Homo sapiens: one gene and its partner. The protein of the gene in region 1 interacts with the protein of each later gene in a pairwise test. Each region holds a gene or a part of one and is shown on either strand. Other genes may lie near its edges.

Region 1 (4,648 bases):
GAGTAATTTGGTACAATGAAGGCAGTGTTTGTTTTTAAGTTAAAGGAAATGGGCTAAACATAAAGTTCTTATTAGATAAGTAAATAACTAAAGAAAGAATACAATTACTAAACTCTGATGGCTTTGTATTATTTTAAAGAAATGAAGTTTAACTTTATACAGTGAAGCTAAGCTAGGCAAGCTCAAGAAGGAAAAAAAAATCTTGAACATTATTTTTTTTTGCCTGACTTACTTATTCATTAAATTTTGAAGGTTTTCCACTTGAAGTAAATTAGGAAAGGTAAAGAAGATAACAGAACAAGTAAACACTTAAGAAAAGTCAAGCTGAGGCCGGGCAGGGTGGCTCACACCTGTAATCCTAACAAACACTTTGGGAGGCCGAGGGAGGCAGCTGGATTGCCTGAACTCAGGAGTTCAAGACCAGCCTGGCCAACATGGTGAAACCTCATCTCTACTAAAATACAAAATAATTAGCTGGGCGTGGTGGTATGCGCTGTAGTCCCAGGTACTCGGGAGGCTGAGGCACGAGAATTGCTTGAGCCCGGGAGGCAGAGGTTGCAGTGAGCCAAGATCGCGCCACTGCACTTCAGCCTGGGTGACAGAGTGAGGCTGTCTTCTAAAAAATATAAAAAGTGAAGTTGGGATTTTTGGATTTAAATGGTACAAAAAGAATATCTCATTTTCCCATGATTAAAGCTAATCTTCAGATGGAAAGCTTGCCTGGCTACCTAGGGTGCACCAGAGAATCTGATCCAATGCAAGCCAGTCAATCCTACAAATGTGGTGAGCTAGTCTTCCTTCCTATATTTTAATAAATGTAACCAAAGGCCATCTGGAGGTAGGGGAATGAGAGGTGAAGAAACAGAAAAATAGAGGTTATAAGGATGGAACTAAAAGTTGTCAGAAGAGGTATGAGCTGAAGAAAGAATTACTCTCTTTTGACCAATAAATACAATTGGGAAACACTGGAAAACCATGGCTTGATTACTGACAACCAACCTGCCTCTCTAAAGAGGGTGTATAAAGGGTGAAATACATTAGATTTGGCTCAGAAACAGAATGCGGTACTTATAAAGCAGAATAAAGGGGAGAACAGTAGTAGTTGATCTAACCCAGATTAGACATGAATACCAGCATATGTTTGCAGAGTCCCACAGTTTTGATTCCTCTTATAACTTTTTGAGGTGCAAAAGGAAGGTACCAGAACTGGAATCACATGTAATCAATCAGTGTGATTTTCCCCTCATACCACACAGCCATAGGCTGCAGTGTGGCTGCTGAAGTTCAATTGATATAAAGTAAATCAGGCTTCAAAAAGAATGGTGCTGTGGGTACACAAGGACATAAAGATGGGAACGATAGACACTGAGGACTGCGGCGGGGGGAGCGAGGGGAGCGGGGAGGGCAAGGGCTGAAAGACTATGTATTGGGTACTATGCTCACAACCTGGATGATGGGATCATTCATACCACAAACCTCAGTATCACACAATATACCCATGTAACAACCTGCACTCTGCACATGTACCCTTAGAATCTAAAATAAAAGTTGAAATTATTTTTTTAAAAAAAGGATGGCGCTGGTCATAGAAAAAGTCAAAGTAAACTAACAGTGTCATTTTCAAATGTTGCTGGAAGCACAATATTGGCCATAAATTAGTGAGGTTAAAATAGAAGAATCTGGCATTTTATAGTATAAGGAAAAGCTACAAACCTCAAGGTTGTTTTATTTAAACCAAATAATCTGAGCAAGACATATATACATTAAAAACAAATGAACACATTAAAATTTCACTATTTTACAATCTAAATTCTAGCAACATATACAAATACTGAGTGACTACAGTACATGCCGAGGTAAGATAAGTACATTCTGGGAGAATATCACTGACGCTCAAACCATTTTTATTTCCAATATGTATTTCAATACATGTTTGTTTCCACTTTTCCCAGTGCCACACACACACACACAAAAACAAAACAAAACAAAAAAAAACAGTCACAAGTTGGATTACATTAGAATTGGTGCCACAGTTGACTTTAAAAGCATTTTAATAACCACCCAACTCTTAGATTTTGCAGTTTAGGGACTTCAAGTTCAGAACCAAAAAGCAGAGAATCGTTTCATGTGACATGATGTTTCTATAGACCTCTTGCTCTCTAGGTGACAATGCAGAGCCAGGGCAAAGGTGTTTAAGCTTTGTCACCTTCCACAGCTTTGTGGCCACATTCATATTTAGATAAGCTCGGACTCTGCTCCCCTCTTCTGGAGATGGGGAGAGGCAAGTGTGTATGTGTTGTCATACTTACTGCATTAATTCTTCACTCGAACCGTTTACATCAGCGAATAAACCCATTGTTCAATGCAAAGTGCAAACAGTGAAACATGAACTTAAATAAACTGGACTAGACCCATCACATCCAACAGGATCTATTTAGATTTACAGCATTTAATAAAGTATAAGTCAGAATTCACAATATCTTAAACTGTGCTGTTTCCTAAGATCAAGTAACAGCCAAGTCAGTGTAATTTTATGAAACCTGTAATGGCCACATTTGTTGTGTCTCCGATGTATTTCTATAATTGCATTAACAGGAAAAAACTTAATCCAATATACCAGTGACTTTGAGTCTTAAATGTTGCAAGCAAAGGATAAAAATTCAAGGGAATTTTGTCAGATATGGTTACTTTCACATTTTCAGTTGTTACTTGATTGTCTCCAAAGCCGTATATGTATCAGACATATAAATGTAGTAAAAAAAAAAAAAAAAAAAATAGAAAACCTCTACTATAAAAACCAATGAACTAAAAAGAAGTATAAAGCAGAAAAACCATTTGAATCAGGCTCAGCTCTTCATCTGGAAAGTAAAGTTTATATAAAAGTAGTAAAAACTAGATATTTTATAAAAATTATTGGTAGTTCAAGGATAGCACAGTGGCAATATGAATCGAGTCTTAAAATATGCATCATTTCAGAAAACACTTGCCCCTCTTAAAAAAAAAAAAACCCAAAACTAAACAACAACAACAAAAACCTCCAGGAAAAAACAATCAGGTATACACAATTAACACAAGAATAGCAAACTTCTTTGGGAAAATGAAATAGTTACCAAAAACATCTCTCTTAAAGCTTCAAACAGGTATATTACTTGAGGAAAAGTATATTCTCTGTGTACTAAGGATGAATTAAAAAATCAACTGGTTTGCTCTCTTCCCACCTGAAAAGGGATGACTGCATTAATATATGTGCTTTCCACATCCATATATGTTTTAATAAAAGTCTACCATCTATGTCTTTTGTTTCAAACATTTTGAAACAAAATATGTATTGATTCTTCAATGAATGAAATCACGCCTCAAAGTTTGGAGAAGGAAAAGCCAGTGAAAATAAGGCCAAAAAACCATACCACAAAAGGACAGGAAGCCTGCAGAAATAAACAGTTCTCTTTCTGAAGCGATGTTTTAGAATACTGATATAATTCATGGAAACAAGAAAACAAATACTGTTCATCTTTATTCAAATTGAGTGAATTCTGGCAACATCATAATCTGGTGGCTCAGGCCAACAGAAGTGACTAGAACTTTATGGAAAAGTACTGTTCAACATTAAATCTACAAACAAAGGTTTATGGAAGAGGGAATGTCAAATTTATGTATTTTTATCATATGGTGAGCTGCTCATGTCGTCTTGACAGTCTGAAGGCTTTAAAAGATGGTTTTACATTGTTAGCTAATAAATTACAGATGATTTCTATTTTGCCATGTCTAAAACTAGCTCTGGGCAGGTATGAACAAGTGGTGACATGGAAGCTGCCAGGAGGTATCAAAAACAAGGCATGAATATTCATTTGCTAGTAAGCTATAATGTCTGTTCCCTAGGTGACATATAGGACTACTCAAACCTCTTACCACACAAAGTGCACGATCACGCAGTCCTGAAAAATACACGTTAGGTTTATATTTTGTGTAACAGTTTATGGAAAACTGAAATGAAAAATTATTTTTTCTGACTAAAAATATAAAATACCTTGAGACTCAAGAAAAATGTATATGTTTGTGAATGTATAAAACCAAAAAGGACAAATTCTGGTTACTTTTTAAAGAGGTAATTTATATTACTTCTGAGTGAATAATTTTGCCTTTCACTGTGATAAATATAAGTGGGTCATGTTTACAGTATTCCCTTAGAAGCCTTCAACTTTTCATAACTCTCCTAGGAAAAATCCCATTGCAAATAAAGTTGGGGGTGGGAGAAGAATCTCCTTTAAAGCTTTCAAATCATAAAGTTGTTCCTGTTTACACATTGAGGAGCATACTTAAAGGACATGAAGGGATCTGAATTCATGAGACTAAGGCAAGCATCACTCATCAGAAATACTCAAACATTTTATAAACACAAGAATGGGGCAAGACACCAAAGGGCCTCAAGTGGAACACGCAAGGATGAGACCAGGCCATATACTGTGAAGCATTAAAGCTCTAAAGAGTGTCACAAAGTGAAAAAGCAATCCCCCTGCTCATTACAAGTCAGAAAATCCCAGCTACAGATCTTAAGATGGATAAGTGGATATGGCTGCAATAAAAACAATGCTTATATCACTAATTATTAAAAAAAATCCAGAAAAGAATATAGGAATAGAAGAGGAAA
Region 2 (3,500 bases), on another chromosome or scaffold:
CAGAGAGTTGGCCCTAGGGGGCTCCCGGGAAGCCCCTGGCTTCAGTGAGCTTCAGACAGGCTCTTCCATATAAACAGAGTAGAAGCAGCAGCAGGTTGGAATGAAGGTGGTACTGGCCATTTGGGTAAGACATACAATGAACTTGCCGAACTGGAAGAGCTCAGGATGAACTTCTAAGGGCTCAGAGGATTTATCTCTGACTAATGTGCTGGTGAGTTAAGCAGCTGAAAGGAAAACATCTAACATCAAACAAAGAGTTTGCATGGTCTCCGCTTTTAACTTTCTGAACCTCTAGAAATCTTAGCTGTTTGTTTTAAACTAGTCAAAAATCTCATAAGTCAACTAGTGACAAGGTTGACAGTTAAAATAATTTATTGGAGTCATAGTCATAAAGCATTTCCTTGTTCACAGTCACCCTGGGTGAGCTTGCAGCTTCCACCCTTCGGCTTATAAAATTCAGCTTATAAAAAAGCTGATGAGTCACCTCGTATCATACAGGTAATGGCATGGTCAGCCCCCAGCACCCGCAGACAGCTGGCTCCAGAGCAGGGCACGGGTGTGAGCCGCACCCACCCCAGGCTCCCCCAAGGCACACACACTTGCTACATGAAGGAGAGAGAAAATAAATGGATGTCTGTTCTCATCTTAAAATTCACCCATTCAAACCTTTTTTGCACTTGGAGATTATGTTTCAAAATTAATATTGTCTTTAAATAAGAAATCTAAATTCACCAGTAAACTACATAAAACATGAACTTTACTGATAAAGTTTCATCAATCACTAGTGGGGATGTAAAACACAGAAGTTATTCTCCAGCCACTCTGGAAAATAGTTTGTCAGTTTCTTAATAAAGCGTACACTTACTACACCACCCAGCAATCATACGGGGGCATTTTCCCTGGAGAACTGAGCATTACCCCCACACAAAAGCCTGCACACAAGTTTTCACAGCAGCTTTATTTGGAACGGCCAAGAACTGGAAACAGGCAAACTGTTTCTCAATAGGTGGATGGTTAAACAAATGACGGCAAAGCCAGACCACGGAACGCTACTTAGCAGTAAGAAGGAAGGAGCTATTGACATAGGCCACAGCTTGGATGGTGCTCAAGAGCATTAGGCTGAGTGGAAGAAGCCAACCTCAAAGACCCATATACTGTGTGATTTCATGTATTTATATAACTTTCTGGAAATAACAAAATTGTAGGAATGAAATTTGTGGTTTTCAGGGGTTTGTTCAGGAGGGGGTGAGGGAGGGCAGGGTAGGGGGTGCACCCTGAAAGGGTAGCACGAGGGAGCTCTTTGTGGTGAGTGGCAGTCCTGTGCCTTGATGCAGTGGTGATTCCCTGAATCTACACATGTGAGAAAAGTGGAGCCCCCAAGTACCAAGGGCAGCTTCTGGGCTCTGATACTGTACTACTGTTAGGAAAGATGCAGCCACCGGGGGAAGCTGGGGAGGAGGATAGCCTGGGGCAAGTTTTCAAACCCATCTTGCCCTCCACCTAGAAACAGACTTGGGGCTGCTGGGGGGTACACAGAGGGAGTGAGACTGGCCATTTGGTTTGTGTGGGAGCTGGGTGAGGCCTGTAACTGCCAGCTTTCCCCCACTTCCCTGACAACCTGCATGACCCAGCAGAAGCAGCCATAATCTTCCTAAGTGCACAACTCCAGTAACTTGGGAATCTCACCTTTACCCCTCACAGCAGCAACAGCAAGACCCACCCAAGGAGAGTCTGAGCTCATACATGCCTAGCCCTGCCCCTATCTGATGGTCCTTCCCTATCCACTCTGGTGGAAGACAAAGGGCATATAATCTTGGGAGTTCTAGGGCTCCACCCAACACTGGTCCCTCTCCATACTACTACAGCTGCTGCTTTTTGGAAAGTGTCACCTCCTGGCAGGGGGCCAACCAGCACAAAAATAGACCATTAAACCACCAAAGCTAAAGACCCTCACAGAGTCCACTGCACCCTCTGCCACCTCCACCAGAACAGGCACTGATATCCATGGCTGAGAGACCCATAGACATTCCACATGACAGTACTCTGTGCAGACAATCCAGAGTACCAGCCCAGAGCCAGGTAAATTCGCTGGGTGGCTAGATCCAGAAGAGAGACAACAATCACTGCAGTTTGGCTCACAGGAAGCCACATCCATAGGAAAAGGGGAAGAATACTACATCAGGGGAACACCCTGTAGGACAAAAGAATCTGAACAGCCTTCAGCCCTAGACCTTCACTCTGACAGAGCCTATGCAAATGAGAAGGAACCAGAAAACCAGCCCTGGTAATATGACGAAACAAGGATCTTCAATACCCCCCAAAATCACACTAGTTCACCAGTAATGGATCCAAACCAAGAAGAAATCCCTGATTCACCTGAAAAAGAATTCAAGAGATTAGTTATTAAGCTAATCAGGGAGGGACCAGAAAAATGTGAAGCCCAATGCAAAGGAAGTCCAAAAAATGATACAAGAAGTGAAGGGAGAAATATTCATGGAAATAGATAGCTTAAAGAAAAAACAGTCAAAAATTCAGGAAACTTTGGACACACTTTTAGAAATGTGAAATACTCTGGGAAATCTCAGCAATTGAATTTAACAAGTGGAAGAAAGAAATTCAGAGCTCAAAGACAAGGTCTTTGAATTATTAACCCAATCCAACAAAGACAAAGAAAAAAAAAAAGAAAATATGAGCAAAGCCTCCAAGAAGTCTGGGTTTATGTTAAACGACCAAGCCTAAGAATAACTGGCGTACCTGAGGAAGAAGAGAATTCTAAAAGCCTGGAAAACATATTTGGAGGAATGATCAAGGAAAACTTTCCTGACCTTGTGAGAGACCTAGACAGCCAAATATAAGAAGCACAAAGAACACCTGGGAAATTCATCACAAAAAGATCTTTGCCTAGGCACATTGTCATCAGGTTATCCAAAGTTAAGACGAAGAAAAGGCTCTTAAGAGCTGTGAGACAAAAGCACCAGGTAATCTATAAAGGAAAAGCTATCAGATTAGCAGCAGATTTCTCAGCAGAAACCCTACAACCTAGAAGAGACTGCGGACCTATCTTCAGCCTCCTCAAACAAAACAATTATCAGCCAAGAATTTCATATCTAGCAAAACTAAGCATCATATATGGAGGAAGGATATAGTCGTTTTCAGACAAACAAATGCTGAGAGAATTTGCCATTACCAAAACACCACTACAACAACTGCTAAAAGAAGCTCTAAATCTTGAAACAAATCCTGGAAACACATCAAAACAGAACCTCTTTAAAGCATAAATCACAAAGGACCTATAAAACAAAAATACAAATTAAAAAGCAAAAACATAACCAAAGTAGACAGGCAACAAAGAGCATGATGAATGCAATGGTACCTCACATTCCAATACTAACATTGAATGTAAATGGCCTAAATGATCCACTTAAAAGACACAAAACCACAGAATGGATAAGAACTCACCAACCCTCTGCTGCCTTCAGGAGACTCACCTAACACATAAG

What was found. The genes of interacting proteins can lie anywhere in the genome.
Region 2: the proteins of DCBLD2 (region 1) and MALL interact in binary tests that used the Homo sapiens proteins (3 or more experiments, as listed by UniProt).

What each region holds. Positions count from the first base shown.
Region 1 is NC_000003.12:98,794,282-98,798,929, forward strand, and holds the end of DCBLD2 (discoidin, CUB and LCCL domain-containing protein 2 precursor), read right to left. Parts: 3' UTR 1,660-4,648; downstream 1-1,659.
Region 2 is NC_000002.12:110,105,823-110,109,322, forward strand, and holds part of MALL (MAL-like protein), read right to left. Parts: intron 1-3,500.